2 separate regions of the Homo sapiens genome follow, and region 2 is linked to region 1. Evidence: fine-mapped expression QTL. Tissue or cell type: lung. Region 1 holds a variant in brackets; the other region holds the start of a gene. All regions are shown on one strand. Distances are between the middles of the regions.

What was found. PIP is the estimated chance that this variant, and not a neighbour inherited with it, causes the effect.
Region 2: it holds the start of ZFP28, and the variant in region 1 is fine-mapped to the expression of ZFP28 in lung (TOPMed, PIP above 0.99). The same link has a PIP of 0.9 or more in ovary, prostate, thyroid and tibial nerve.

Annotation. Positions count from the first base shown.
Region 1 is chr19:56,509,231-56,517,431 of GRCh38, reverse strand. ZNF471 (zinc finger protein 471) reads right to left here. Exons shown (of 5, transcript NM_020813.4): 2 at 5,828-5,915; 3 at 1,031-1,157. The coding sequence starts at 5,860. Among named protein-coding and RNA genes, the nearest start is that of ZNF471, 5.5 kb to the right of the region's middle. The variant A/G (reference allele first, on the strand shown) is at 4,620.
Region 2 is chr19:56,534,506-56,542,682 of GRCh38, reverse strand. It overlaps ZFP28 (ZFP28 zinc finger protein), which reads right to left and starts at 3,735. Exons shown (of 8, transcript NM_020828.2): 1 at 3,457-3,735; 2 at 2,967-3,058. The coding sequence starts at 3,664. ZFP28-DT (ZFP28 divergent transcript) reads left to right here and starts at 3,949. Exons shown (of 3, transcript NR_183967.1): 1 at 3,949-4,258; 2 at 4,946-5,032; 3 at 6,351-6,527.

The DNA of each region.
Region 1 (8,201 bases):
ACTCAGGAGGCTGAGGCAGGAGAATGGCGTGAACCCAGGAGGCGGAGCTTGCAGTGAGCCGAGATGGTGCCACTGCACTCCAGCCTGGGCGACAGAGCGAGACTCCGTTTCAAAAAAAAAAAAAAAAAAAAAATTAGCTGGGTGTGGTGGTGGGTGCCTGTAATCCAGCTACTTGGGAGGCTAAGGCAGGAGAATTGCTTGAACCTGGGAGGTGGTGGGCCAAGATTGCGCCACTGCCCTCCAGCCTGGGCAACAGAGCAAGACTGTCTCAAAAAAAAAAAAAAAAAGAGAGCGAGAGAAAAATTAAAATTAAAACAGAACAAAGATTTTTAAAAGTGAAACAATCCTTAGTTACCTAGGGCACAATATCAAACAATCTAACATAGGTGTAACTGAAGTCCAAAACAGAAAAGAACAGAAAAAAAGATTTGAAGAAATAATGGCTAAAAATCTCCCAAATTTGGTTTAAGATATAAATTTAGTTTCAAGAAGCTCAATGAACCACAAGCATAATCAAAAGGGCTTCTGGAGAACAGAAAGCTAATCTAGCCAATGGGGTGGCCCCAGTGCTTAGAAGAAAGGTCCATAGGAATTTCCCTAACAGTAAGTGATCTGAAGCCATTTTCAGTTTGTGTCTTCAGTTTGTTACTTAATACAAAGATACAGATTTTAAAAGTGATATTCTGAATTTATAGTAATCTAGCTATATATTCTTTGTGAACCTTGTTGTTGTCTAGTGGTGATAGTAATTCTGTAGGAGAGAGAGAACAAGGAAACTGAGGAGACTGGTGAGATTCACATTGTGTCTTGTGTTCCCAATTGCCTTAAGGGTGTATGCATGGAATATTTGATATTCTCCAAATTCACTAACTCTAAATCTCAAGTTTTCTTCAGTCCCTCAATATCCTCTGTTTCTCAGATTCCATTCCCAAATTCCATTCTGACCTACATATAATAAAAGCAAATTTAATAATATATAGACAAAAAAGTTCCTTAAAGGTAGATTATGCAGGAGGGAAAAGATCCTCACCAAGTGATACCAGGCTCTGATAGTTCTCCAACATCATACTCCTGTATAAACGCTTCTGAGCAGGGTTCATCCATTGCCATTCTTCCTGGGAAAAATCTATTGCCACATCCTTGAATGTCACTAAGTCCTGAAGTGACAAATATATTCTTAACCAACCAATGCTCGTGTCCAAAGATAACTCTGAGTTGATCCAAAGTGTCTCTACTTTAGGTGAGAAATAACTCATAGAAGAGAAAAAACATAAATAGGAAGATCCAAGCCAAAACAGTACTTATGGAAGTGTTTAACTGCATTGGGTACAATGGGGCCAATCGATTCCGAACATAGGGAAATATGGGTGCATAACTACAAGGCAGTGAAGACGGCTTCAAGGGAGAACACACACCTGTGTTGAATCTTCAAAAGCATAAAAGGAATATCTAAACTGATATTTTTCAAATGATACTCCATGGGATCCAAGTTTTATTGGCAGGGGCTGGAGAAAGGCATTGAACTAATGTAGCTGATTTTTTTTTCTTAAATAATAAAAACATGTTTAAGAATGCAATTTTCTTAGGTCTGCATCAGTGAATACTGTGTTTTCCACCCACGGTTGGTAGAACCCACAGTTGCAGAACAAAATGAAATTGAAGTTATAACTTTTAAATATTCTTAGAGAAAAATTAATGACCAGTTATAATCACCAGCAGCTTGTAAGAAATTTTAAAAGTTATTGTGGGCATTTTTCACCTTCAGATTTACTTCCGTTGAAAATGAATATCTTCTTAATCTTAGTGCCTGATTTGCAAAGTTATCAAAAATATAACTAAAGACAAGGTTATGAGCACATTTTAATTCGCTTTAAACAGTAATCTCTGTATCATGTCTTTGTTCTGAAGATTAGTGTTTAAAAGCACATTTTAAACAGATATTCAATGTACGGGACTTTAGAAGATATACATACCTTTAGGAAAATGTTTAATATATTTTTCATATAAAAGAATTACAAAATTGTTTACATTTCTCTGTGTACTCACAGTTTTACTGAATTCTAGTTTTCACCTTCTAGTGAGTTGAGAACTAAGAACCATCATTTCACATATTCTTATAAAATGAGATGTATTCCTCAATGCAAGCAAAAGGTGTTCACATTCTTTCCAATATTTAGGATAATTTTGCTGACTATTAAGGACAGAGGAGCTTTGGCTGTTCCCACAGAAAAAACTGCTTTTGATCCTGGTACTTATGGTTAGTAATCTAGTATATATACTACCAGAATTTTACCAATATCTATAGAATAACTTTACATATATGTATGCATGTATATGTAGTGATTTTTTTTAACTGATAATGCTATAACCAATGAAGTAAATCCCAATGGATAGCATCTGAAGAGCTTGTAATTCTTTTTTCTTTTTAAGGACACAACCATTTATTGCAAGGTATCAGATAATTTATGAAATTTCCAGGAGGATTAATACTGAGTAAGTGACTAAATTAAGACTAAATAAATAAATGAGGAAAATAGGCAAATATCTCATTTAGAAGATCTTTCAAATGATTTATGTTTGCCCTTAAGGAGGTAGAACATAATTTCCCACTTCTGGAGTGTAGGTTGTGCATAGTGACTTCCTTACAAACAGTACAGTATGGAAAAGTGAGGGAAAAAAGAGTAACCTTATTATAGAGAAACCTGACAAACACTACCTCAAAGTTAATTAAGTTAACATCTATTAACATCAACAGTAATAAATCATGTTTACAGTGTGCACCCCTGATTTGATGTGATGAAAAAGGAACTTTACCTCTGCAGTCTTCCTCCCCAAAACACAGTACCCTAGTCTAATCATGAAAAAGCATCAGATTTGAGACATTCTACAAAATAACTGAGTATTCCTCAAAGCTGACAAGGTCATCGATAAGCAAAGTATGAAAAACTATCACAGCTAAGAGGAGTCTTAGGAAATATGACTATTAAATGTAATGTAATTTCCTAGATAGAATCCTGGCACAGAAAAAAAACATTAGATAAAACCTAAGAAAGCCTGGCCGGGTGCAGTGGCTTACACTTATAATCCCAGCACTTTGGGAGGCCAAGGCCGGTAGATCACTTGAGGCCAGGAGCTCAAGACCAGCCTACATAGCATGGCAAGGACAACATGGCAAAACCCCACCTCTACCAAAAATACAAAAATTGGCTGTGCATGGTGGTGCATGCCTATAATCCCAGCTACTCGAGTGGCCGAGGCACGAGAATTGCTTGAACTGGAGAGGCAGGTTATAGTGTGCTATGATCCTGCCACTGCACTCCAGCCTGGGTGACAGAGTGAAACTCTGTCTCAAAAAAAAAAAAAAAAAAAAAATTAAAAAGTTAAAACAATGAAAGAAAATCTAAACTAAGCACGGACTTTAGTTACTAATAACATATCAATATTGGTTCATTAATTTTAACAAAAGTACCACACTAATGTAAAATATTAATAGGGGAAGCTTGGTGTGGTATAAGATTTCTCTACACTATCTCTGCAATTTTTCTACAAATCTAAAACTATTCTAAAAAATAAAATTTATTTTTTAAGTAGACCTTCTCAAGAGGAGGACATCAAAGCTTCAAACTATCTTTTAAAAATATATAAAGTCTAGCACTAAACCCAAAATGAGGCATTTAAGACAAAAAACAAGATAATTTTCAAAACATCACAAAATAGAAACACATAAGAGATCCAGATAATGGAATTATCCAACAAGGATACCAAAATATTATGATAATATTTTTAAGGAGCTAAAAGGAAAGGTAGTGAATTCAGGAAGAAAATAGAAAATTACATAAAACAATTAAATAGAAATTCTAGAACTAAGTATGCAATAACAGAAGTTAAGAATTCCATTATGGGCTTAACAGGAGATTAGAGAATTAAAGAGAGAATTAAAGCATAAGTGACATATAAAACAGTGTCAGTTATGTATATAATTGTGATCTTAGAAAAAGAGGAAAGTTTCAGAATATTTGTGGTTGAAAAATTTCCAAATTGATGAAAGACACCAAGCTACGCTGAACACTGACTTAAAACAAAAATAGTGAATAATGTTTACAGTCTATCAAATAAGCATGTGTGTGTGCATTTCAGGTGGTGGGGTTAATGGACTGCATCTTTATCATCTATAGTAGTAGGTTACTGGATCATTTCTAAAACTAAAATAATCAAGAAATAGTGTATGGAACATTATTCAGGAGTATGAGGTTAAATATCAAAACTAAAGACAGTAAGTTGTATTGTGGAGATCCCAACTTACTTCTATAGGGCAAATTGGAGGGGACTAATTCTGTTGTGTATGGTGCTTGTGACTTCAGGTAGAATTTTAATGACAACATGAGGCACACAAACTAAAAGGTCTGTATCTTTGGAAAATTATGTTAGGTAACTCACAAAATGGTTTTAATGCTGAGGAAGACACAGATGCCCAGAATCCATGTAAATGTTTTTTAATATCTCATGAACTCTGACAGCACAAGAAAAAAAAGCAGTGTTTCAAAATTAATTTAACGTAACTTTCCATATGAAGCATATAAATTAATTAAGCATTAATTATGGACATCTGACACTCATGT[A/G]TGTCATGAAAACACATTTTCCACTTAGAAAAAATGTGAGGAGGGGAATTTCACAGTGGGAGAATTAAGGATTCCTTTTTATACATTGTTTCTTATACATGTGCAATATAATATTTAAAAATTAAAAGATTAAAAGCAGAAATTCAAGTAAAACTGAGTGTAGTACAGCAACAGAACCAAATACACACAGGAATTTAGTGCATGATATAGGTGGCATTTCAAATTAGTGAGAATGAGATGAATAATTCAATTAATGCCATTGTGCCAACTTGAAAAAATAAATCTCTGCCTCACTTATTATAAATTATACATGTAATGTAAAAATGTAATGTAAATTAAATGTAAAAATCTAATGTAAATTAAATTTAACATAAAAAGTTAATGTAATTTCAGCCCTACCATGATAGAAAACCACAAAAATCAAGTCTAAGCTTACCAGAAACTTAACTGTGAAGGATAAAACAAATCTTAGAAGAAAAATAGGACCTAAAGGTAGACAAAAATTTCATCAACAAGACACGAAAAATCATTAACTTTGAAGGGAAGAAAGTATTTTTGTATACACGCAAAGGCATAACATAGCTCTGAATGAGATACATGGTGAGAATAACTTCTTAAAATAACTGGGAGTTAAGGGTGAAATTTGTTTGTAAATTTTGTACCATGTCAACTTCTCACCTATTTAAATTTATAAAATTTGCAAAAATTAAGTAGAATAAGATTTTTCAGGTGAACGAATGAGGTTGGTAATTCATACTTAAAATGTAAAGAAAAACTTTTAAAGAATTTATCTTAAGGACATAATTAGAGATTTGGAGAAAACTTCAGGTAGAGGAATAATTCCTAATGCATTCTATATATAGGAAACGCACTGCATGCACATTTAACCTGGAGCCCAACTCACTAGTACTAACATATCCACATGTATATTCCACACAACATAAATCAAGTCTTTTCACAAGAGTCAACACTAAATTTAAAATGTACACAAGGTGGGAAGAGGAATCTCAGAGGGACCTCCATGACTTTTTATACTAAGCTATTACTCACTCATTAGGTAATTAGAGTTAAAGACAGTGGCCCCTGAGAGAAGTGGGAACTAGGCTCCTGGACTGTTAATCAGGGAATTTTCAAAAGAAAAGAAGCATTACAAAAAGTCCTAAACAGCAAGACTGCCTTTCATGAAGAGAAAGAAAATATCCACTAACCTGGGGCATGACTTTTACTACTTCAACATTCATTTTTGCCTTCTCTTCTGGTCTTTCTCTTGAAGAACAGTGTCTTGGGAGGGCAAGGCTGAAGGAAGGGAAAGGTTAGAGAGAGATGAGGCCAGAGATGCTGCACTCCCAGAATCACTAGCCTAAAACTGTCTTCTTCTTCCCAGCTTTGGTTGATCCCATAACTGGGTATGAGCAACCTATGGCCACTGAAGGGCTAAAACTCATAACGGTTTTTTTTTTTCATGCTTGAGGTCCTAAATTTAATCTTTTTCAAAGAGCTACCTTCCCATTCAGATGCATTAGGTACTCTGCATAGATTAGATTATCTCACTTTATTTTTCAAATAATCCTATAAAATAGTCATTTCCTCCATTTTACAGGTAAAGGTGGAGTCATTCTCTTCTTGGGTCTCTGCTTCATGCTTTGAAAGTCTACTGTTTGAAAATCTGGCTCCTTTCTGGGCCAGATGGATGGGGTTTTTGGGAAAAAAAAAAAAACAAAAGAAAAAGGAAAATCTGACTCCCAAATGCCACCAGAGGCCAGGGTTATCCTCCTTCTTCACTCAATCCCCACCACTGCATCCCTGACCCACCCCCCGGCACTGTTTCACTTTCCTCACCCTGAAACGATGGAACCTTTAGCACTCAATTCTGCCACTTTCACTCTCACCTCTGTCCCAGCCCCTTAATTACCCTCCTGTCACACAGAAGTGAGGGTGTCTCCTGCTTCAGTTAGGAGCTTCAGTCACCCCAGCTTTGCTTCTTACTGAAACCCTTGGACTGGGGACAGGAATTCTATTCCACATTTCCTATCCCGGCAACACACAATTCCAAACAGCCACACTCATAAAGAATCCAATCCTATCAATCTTCCAAGTAGTCTCTCCATACACAGCAGTCATACAGGGCCACAATTATGGGTATACAGGGTGACATACAAACACTAACACAGGTTTCATGGTCACACGGAGGACACAATCACAAGCACCCCAAAACAAGCACATATACACAGTCACATTTCCATTGCCTGAGGACATGAATATAAGCACACGTGGTGATTCACCAACACCTTCACACATACCCCCAATCTTACTTCTCTCACACACACAGCTCACTGTCCCTTATCTCTGTCTCACTCACACATGCATGCTTCACAACCTCACAGAGGTTATATTTGTAAAGCCTTTTGGATAACACACCATGGTTCACATAGTTTCTTTCTCACCCATTTTGGTCTCTCACACAACCACATCACTAGTCTTTCTCTCCCTCTTTCACACATATAAACATGATGGTCTCTCATACATACACATTCAATGGTATCTTTCAAAGAGGCCTCAGTTACTCAAATGCTCCAGTGTCTCACACAGATACACAAACACACTCTGATCTCTCATATTCCAACTGCTTTATCTCATGCACACAAAATACATACTGGTCACTCTCACTCCAATCTTTTTCATACTGTGATACACCCTCTCACAACCTACCAGTCCAGACAGAGACATACTCTAGTCTCTCACATACCCATTGGTCTCTCACACACTCACACCAACATACCCCAGTCTCTCCCAATCACTGAACTCTCAGTCTAGTCTCTTGCTTTTACTCAGACACACACATGATCTTTCTCAGACTCCAGGGAGCCTCATACTTGTTCATCTTTCACACAGGCACATCTATTTCTCTCACACATTGATATACCCTGGTCTCACACTCTGGATTCTCACAATCCAGTCCCTGATAACACACTCAGGTGACAAAGAGGAAAAACAAACTGTTTCTCCTACTCCACTCACACAACACAAAACAGTTCTAAGACCAGATGTGTGGGGATCTACACACACACACACACACACACACACACACACACACACACCAGGCAAGCAATAAGTTCTTCAGTGAATACCAGGTGGGTGACCTCTAGGGCAACCCAGTGAATACCAGGTGGGTGACCTCTAGGGCAACCCAATTCTGACACTATCTACCTGGAGACAGCATAAGATCCCACAGGTTGAGGGCTCAGCCCTACAAAATTGCTCCCCACTTCCAATGCCAGTTGCAAACCCCAGGTTGTTTTACTTGTGCTTCTGACTAGCTATAAATCGGGGTTCCTATGACCCCCTCCTTGCGTTCAATTAATTTGCTAGGGCAGCTCACAGAACTTAGGGAAACACGTTTGTAGTAATAAAGGATATTACAAAGGATGCAGGTGAAGAAATGCATAGGACAAGGTTATATAGGAAGGGGCTCATCCTACAGGAACCTCCAGTGTTCAGCTATCTGGAAGTTTGATGAACCCAGTCCTTTTGGGTTTTTATGGAAGCTTCATAATGTAGGCATGACTGGTTAAATCACTGACC
Region 2 (8,177 bases), 25 kb before region 1:
AAGAGAACTTTAAGACTATATTCAAACATTCATCCACCAAATATTTTCTGTATCAGACATTAGGCAAAACTGCCCCAAATCCTTGCCTATGAAGTAAGGAAATGAGACAAGAGAAACTGAGATAAATTAAGTAAAATACATTTGACCTTCGAACAACATGGATCTGGGCTGCAAGGGTCCACCTATATGCAAATTTTTTCAACCAAATGCAGACTGAAAATACAATTATTGTCTGGGCGCGGGGAATCACACCTCTAATCGCAGCAATTTGGTAGCCCAAGGCGGGCGGTTGCCTGAGGCCAGGAGTTCGAGACCAGCCTGGGAAACATGGCAAAACCCCATCTCTACAAAAAATACAAAAATTAGCTGGGCATGGTGGCACATGCCTGTAATTCCAGCTACTTCGGAGGCTGAGATGGGAGCACTGCTTGAGCCTGGGGAGGTCAAGGCTGCAGTGAGCCGTGATGGCACCACTGCACTCCAGCCTGGGTGACAGAGTGAGACCTTGTCTCAAAAAAGATTATTTGTGGTATGGAAAACCTGTGTCCACTGAGGGCTGACTTCTCATATCTGCAGGCTCCACATGGCTGATGAATAAGTGCAAATTTTGGTATACGTGGGATTTCTGTATATAGTATGTTGAAAAGTACTACGAGGGCCAGGCACAGTGGCTCATGGCTGTAATCCCAGCACTTTGGGAGGCTGAGGTGGGCGGATCACTTGAGGTCAGGAAATCGAGACCAGCCTGGCCAACATGGTGAAACCCTGTCTCTAAAAAAAAAAAAAAAAAAAAAAAAAAAAAAAATTAGCCAGGTGTGGTGGCTACTCGGGAGGCTGAGGAAGGAGAATCATTTCAACTCAGGAGGCGGAGGTTGCAGTGAGCCGAGATCACGCCACTGTACTCCAGCCTGAGTGACAGAGCAAAACTCTGTCTCAAAAGAAAAGTACTAAAAGAAAAAAGCAAAGCAGGGAAGAGGGATGTGAAGAACAGGTAGGAGGCTCTGAAATTCTAGACAGGGTGAGCAGGAAAATGAGAAGGCGATTTTTCAGAAAGAAGAGAGTGATGTAGATGTCAGGGGTAACAAGGAGCCAGGTCATGTAGGGCCTGGTCAGTAACAGGAAGAGTTTTGGCTTTTATTCAGAGAAACCACTGGAGGGTCCTGAGCACAGCGTGACACAAGGTGACATGTTTGAATAGACCCCTCTGGCTGCTCATCGGGAAGGGGCTGTGGGGAGCGTGAGCAGAAGCAGGAGGTCACAGAAGCACAGTCAAGAAGCCCACAGTAAAAGGAGGACTTGGACCTGCTGCTGGTGATAGATGTGATGAAAACTGCCAGATTCTGCACATAATTTGCAAATAGAACTGACAGGATTTGCATCAGGACCAAATATGGAAGGAAAAGGCAAGAAATGAGCCAATCATGACAAGGCTTCCGGACTGAGTAACTGAGAGGATGAAACGGCCACTGACTAAGACTCAAACTGTGGGAGGAGCTGGTTTATGGGAGACTCTCAGGACTTCGGGTCTGGACAGGCTGTCTTGAGTTACCCATCAGACACTCAGGCAGAGGAGTGGAGCAGGATACACAGGCCGGCGGCTCAGAGGAGAGGTTTGGGCTCACAATGTGAATCTGGGAGGAGCCACCATGTGGGTAGGTTGTACAGACAAGGAACAGGCTACTATCCCCAGGAGACAGCATGCAGACAAAAAAAGAAAGGGCCATGAGCAGAGTGCTGAGGCACACTCTGTTCAAGTCACGGAGGTAAGAACTGTGGCAAAAACTGAGCAGTCAGGAAGATGAAAGTCAGATGAGTGTGAGATCCCAGTAGCCAAGGGAAAAAAGGGGGCCTATTGAAGGACAGGGATGAGCTATTTGAGGGATAGGTAGCCACCTGTTTTGTAACTGAAGTTTTACTGGAACACAGCCCATCCATTCATTTACATATTGTCTTTGGCTACTTTAGCTCTATAAGAGCAGAAAGGAGTAGATGCAGCAGGACTTTCAAAGCCTAACATATTTTCTGCTGTGGCCTCATCCAGCACAAGTTTGCCAGCCTCTGAGCTATTTCAAATACCAATGATAGTCAAAAAAGACTAAGAATTGAGCACTGCATCTGGTAATGTGAAGATCACAGTAACCCACTCAAGAGCAGTTTGGGTAGGACAACTGGAAGCTGGTTCATCTGTACATATATTTTTTGAGGCCTCAGTGGAAGTGAAATGGTTCATCTATTAATGAGCTAGCTATGATATTTATAGGAGAAGCCAACCGAAACAAACACAACTATTTACTGGCATGTTTTAAAGCCACAAAATCAAGTGGAAAAGCCTTTCATATTGCGCCTCCTCTCCCTAAAATGTTGTCTTTCTTTACTGTGCCTCCCAAACATCTTCTCTCCCTTCAAGGCAAGGCTCAAAAATCACCTCCTTGGTAAATAGGCCTACCCTTCCGCTACAGGAGGCTGGAAGCCAGGAGCGCCTTGTAGTCCTCGCTCATAATACTTGGCCCAAGGATGATCACATTCTAGAATCTTGCTTGTTTCCTTGACATTGGGTCAACAGGCTGTGAGCTCCAGAGCAGGGACTAGGGCTTAGCTATTGGTTTGCTCAGTGGCTGGCACAAAGTGGTCACCAAACAAACCATGTATAGCAGAAGAGTCTGCCGTGTTCCTCAAGGGGCACAATTCCTCCATCAGAGTCCCTCTGAGAAAAGCGGTACAAGGGAGAGGCTGAATCATTTCATCAATCAAGAATGAAGGCTGATTGGGATGAAGAAGAAGCAGGCATCGAGGCCCCGGGCAGTTTAAACTTTTCCCCGTAGCCCATCACTTCACTAGAACGTGAAGAAATAGAAACCCGCGCCCAAACAGGTCTCTTAAACTGAAAACTTTCAAGAAAATAAGCAACATTAAGTCCCGAAAAGCAAGACTGCATTTCAGAGACAAGAGATGAAATGCCAACTCACCTGGGACATGGCTTTAGGTTCAATTCCTGTCCCCACAGCCTCCAGCTTCTTGTTTCTCTCCTGGGGAAGAGCAGTGTCCCTGGAAGGCAGAGCTGAAAGAGAAAGGAGTAGCTAGAGACCAGGTCTACACCACAGTCCCAAATCACCAGCCTAGAAACGTCCCTTCCTGCATGAAAAGGTGGGATCAGATCATTACCCTGCCTAGGGACTGCCACAACGTGGAGATAGGTTTTTTTCCTCCCTGGGAGCACGAAAACAGGAAAAGCGTCTAGTTAGAGTCACCCTGGGAAAGTCAACACCCTTTTACCGCGGCTTGCTGCTCTGAATCAGTTGAGCTTCCAAATCTTCAGATTCTCCCACTCCACCAGCTTCAAAGACCAGGGGCACAGTTCTCCAGCAACTGGTCCCCGAGAGCCCAACCCCCTCCCAGATCTCATCCCGAGATGAATTCGTCCCTGTCCGCTCGGCCCCAAACACCTGTCACTCTCACCTCTGTGCCCAGGCCCCGTAGGGGCCGCTCCTCGCTGGCCTTTGGATGCGAGGCCATTCCTTGAGCGCGGCCTTCCCCGGGCAGGGAGGGCCAAGGTGGCTGGAGTCCCTACAGTCGGGCCTCGGCCCGCCCGGGGCTTTGTGCGGGGGGCGCCTCTACCCGGGAGCGGCGTCGGCTCGCGGACACTCGCGCTCGCCGCCCCCCGCATGTCACCCGAGGCCGCGCGACGCCCTTCCGACCGGTCCCTCACAGACCCACACCCCTGGCCACACCCGCCCGCCACGCCCAGCGAACAGCCCCGCGCGCGCTCCCCCATGGCCCGGCATCCACTGGGCCGCGCCGCGGAGCCGCCCCGCCCCCGGCCGCGCCCCGCCCCTCCCCACCCCTCCCCGCTGCCCCGCCCCGCCCCGCCCCGCCCCGCCCCGCCCCGCCCCGCCCCGCCCCGCCCCGCCCCGCCCCTCAGCCTAGAGAAGCCCGGCGCTTCCCACTTCCAGTGCGCAGGCAGCGCCGCCGGAACCGGGCGTGGCCTCGGCGCAATGCCCGCTGGGAAGCGTAGTCCCAAGCAGGGACGGATGCGGCGGCCCTCGGAGCTCAGGTTGCAAGATACGGTTTGGCCCCGGGCCTATGCAACGCCCGTCCGTCCTGCCCTCTGCGGGTCGCTCTCACTTGTCCCTGGACCGCAGCCGCCGCATAAGTGGTGGCCAACGCTGGGCCTGGGTGTGGCCGGAAGCAGAGGCCGCTCTGACTACACACCCACCCCCCAAAGGCTTCTGGGAGTCGCGCAGGCGCAGCGGCAGACCGGGTGAGGCGGGGCTTGCGGCGAGGGGTGGGACCGCAGGGCCGGAGTAAAAGGGTGCTTGGCTGTGACAGGTGCTAAGGGCCTGGGCGTCAGCTCCTTGCGGGAGCGTCACTGCCGACCGGGAAGGGAAAGGCAATCTTGGGGGCCTCCGGAGTCCGGAGGATCACTCTGATGGGTGATGTGTGTGGGCTAGGAAGGGGGATGTAGAGAGCTTGTGGGATTGTTTTGGGTGCCCCCTCACCTTCTCCCATTATCTCTGGCTACACGGGCCTCCCATCCTCCAAAATACCATTTTCCATTTTGTAACCTATGTATTTGCACGTCCTGGGTCGAAATAGTCTAACCCCAAATTTTCGTCTGGGCTGGCTCCTTTATGCCATTCACTTGTCATCGCCTCAGAGAGGGCTGCCTAACGTCTCAAAAATACCAGCCCTGGCGACCTCTTAAAGTTCCCTTCCTGTGTGAATCACGGTCTGAAGTTAGCTGATGGATTTATTCTTGAACATGTTTAGGACCGGTCTCTCCCCCAGGGGCCTTATCAGAACTGGAGAGCTTCATCCTGGGAGCCAAGGGCCTTGCTGGCTCACAGGCAGTGATGCTGTTACACCAGTCATCACAGATGCACTGACCTCTGCACGCCCAGTCACACTGCACGCCTGGTCTCCTTACTCTTGAATTGATTTCTTTCAGGTCTCCTGGCCTCAGTGATGGAATTAAGATGACTTCTATCTCTGAATCCAAGGGTGACTGAAAGCCGCAAGCTGCAGAAAGGACAAGGTCAGCATTTCTCTCAAAGCACTTCAGTCTCATAGAAAAGGCTTAGTTTCAGTCAGGTGGACCTAGCCATGTAATAGCTGTGGCAGACACTGCTAATGGTCTCTCTGGTGTCTATTTTGCACTCCTTCCACAGCAGAACATTGATGCTCTTCAAGTGGCCATCTGCCCAGCTTATAATACTCACCTCCCCAGTCTCCTTGTAAGGAGTAGTGGCTCTGTAACCAATGAATTTTAAGTACACATTTGCTGGGGGTTTGGTGGATGTGTGGAAAGAGACACAGCTGGCATGTAACTCTGGCCTTTTGTCATCTCACACAACCTTCTTCCTGCTTGGGTATGACACAGGATGTCAACAGGTAGAACAGCTGTAGAGAGCTGGCAAAGGGATCGTGGCCAACTCAACATTCCACTGGAGGCTATATGATCAAACAGCAAACTGTTTATCATGAATGCAGAATGTGGGCAAAGTCGCTTCTGCTCCAGCCACCAGAAGGTTTGCTGAAGGCAATCACTCCCTGGTGTCATGCTCCTTGAGGTTATCTAATGGGACATCTAGAGCCTATTGGTTGACGAATGCAGTCTTGCAAGCCTGCTGTAAATCAAGCTACTGACCGACAACCACCCCCCTTCTCCCTATTCACTCTAATAAATACGAAGGGCTGTAAAGGCTCAGGGCCTGTGTTCACTGGAAGCAAGGAGCCCCCAGACCTCTTCTTCCAAATATACTCTTTTGTCTTTGTCTTTATTCCCATGTTTGTCATCCTTTGTTCAGTCCAACAAGGATAGGGTCCGCTGCAAACAGCCACCTTGGCATCATGAGGATGAAAGTTATGCTAAAGATGGCTTAGCAGAAAAAAAGAGAAATAAACAATCAAAGAAATGGTATTAGAAATGAAAAAGTGGACATAATCACAGAAATTTTTAGAATTTTGCAAATACTGTGATCACCTTATCTCAATATATTTAAAACATATGCAGGGGCTTACCATAGAGAAAATTATAAGTACCAAAACTGACTCAAGAAGAAATGGAAAATCATTAAATAAGTTCTCAGGCTTTTCCATGAATACCAAAGCAATAAATAATCCTTATCCTATAAAACTATACTGGAGAATTTAAAACTAGACACCCTTGATACCAAAACTGGACAAGGACAGTAGGGAAAGAATTTAAGTAGGGAAAGAATTCCAATCTTCAGGGACAACATACACATTAAAATCCTACCTAAAGTGACAATAAACAAAGTCCAGCAATACATAGAAAAATATGTCATGTCCAAGGAAGATATGTCAGAATACTTTCATGTTCTGGAATGTAGAGGCATCACCTATGTGGATAAAGACAGCATCCTGAGTTGATGGAGAAATGGCATAGAAGGAACCAGGTCCTTTGATGACATCATGGAGCAAAGCTGTCTTCTTGCCTTGACCTGCTACCTACCTACATGGGAAGCTGTTACTTGAGAAGGCAATAAAATCTATCTTCTTTATTGACAGAGTTGACAATACCTTTTTTATCTTATTGTAGCAGTCACTTATCCTCAAATGACTGCTATATCCTATTTTCCTATTATATGGGGCTATATGCGTCCTTGTTCATATTTAGCAGAGAAGCAACAGAAGCACACTAAAGAATTATGAAGAAAAATATTTCAATATATCCAAATTTTTAGAGAGCTATAAGAATAATTTCATTATTAAGTTCTCCTGCAGCAGGAAGTTGACAAAATATCTCATCTTAACCACCAGGAGTTACACTGTGCTTTTTTTATAAACCCAAAACTATAGCTTTTTGAAAAACAGAAACCAACAAGAAAGATGAATAATCTCCCGGCTGAATCATTTAGATTAAGCTGATACAACTTATGAACTACTGCCAATCTTCACATTTGCCATATTTATAAATTGTTTTATTAATTTTTTTAAAAATTCAGTATAAAGAGTAATATATACTCACAATAGGCAAAAATAAAATTTATAGCACAAAGAAAGGATGTCATATGCTTAGGTGTCAGATGTTTAACAAACAGAATGTACAACATAATGACATTTGATTTGGGAAATAATACTTAGTCCAATGAATTTAGTTATCCAAGGAATCTACTGATTAAAAATATGAATTTTCTATAAAATCATAATTTCTGATTCTATATTTTTCTCTGGAGAGGTATTTTATGTTTTATGTCCATAGGGCCTTACCACATCATGGGACATAAGTCTTTCCTTAGTCACTCAGGAATAGCCTTGTGATATCTGGCTAAGATGAAGGGCAGTCTACTCCTGTCACTGGGAATTCAGTCAGCTTTCGATGAATCATCTGAGGGTGGAAGAGACACCTGAGCACAAGTTGAGTTTTGTTAGAAAAGACAAAAAGGAGACTGGATGCCAAGCAGGTAACCAACAGTACATACTGCCAAGAAGTTATCACAGGAGTGCCACGGTGGGGAGCCTGTTAATATCATTCACCACTATTAATAAATAAGGATGAAACAGTTCCTGGAATCATCTCAATAGATGATTGAGATAAAATGCAGCTCACACCTGTGATTTTAAAAAGAAAAAGCCTTAGCAAACTAGGAATGGTGGAGAGCTTCCTTACTTGGATAAGAAGATGGAATAAAATTATTATAAACCCCAAATACTTTCATTCAGCTTTGGTTAAAATGGTCTGTCAACATCAGACTGGAAAGCAAAGGTTTCCATAGGTAGTCCTGAAAATGGAAAGCAGTGGCATAGACTTTGTCTTTTATTATAAATAATATTTACTCATAACTTATTATTAATTGGAAAATGGAAAAAAAAAGCCTCAGACCAAGAGGTGAAACCTCACTTAGGTTAGATTTTGTGAGCCTACTTTAAAAGCAGTAGAGTGATAAATTGGCCTTCATCAAACTGAGATACACAGCATGTGAAATAAAAAATTCACTGGGCTTAAAAGCAGAATGGAAACAAAAGAAGTAAGACTAAGTGAACTTGAAGAGAGATTGATGGCAATTATCCAATCTGAAGCACAAAGGAAAAAAAGTTGGGGGGAGAAAAACACTGCTTCAGAGCAATGAACAGGCAGTAACTAAAATTCAAAATACAATACCATTTCCGATTATGAATTTTAGCTCCAGATCAACTGCAAGAACAAACCAGAAATC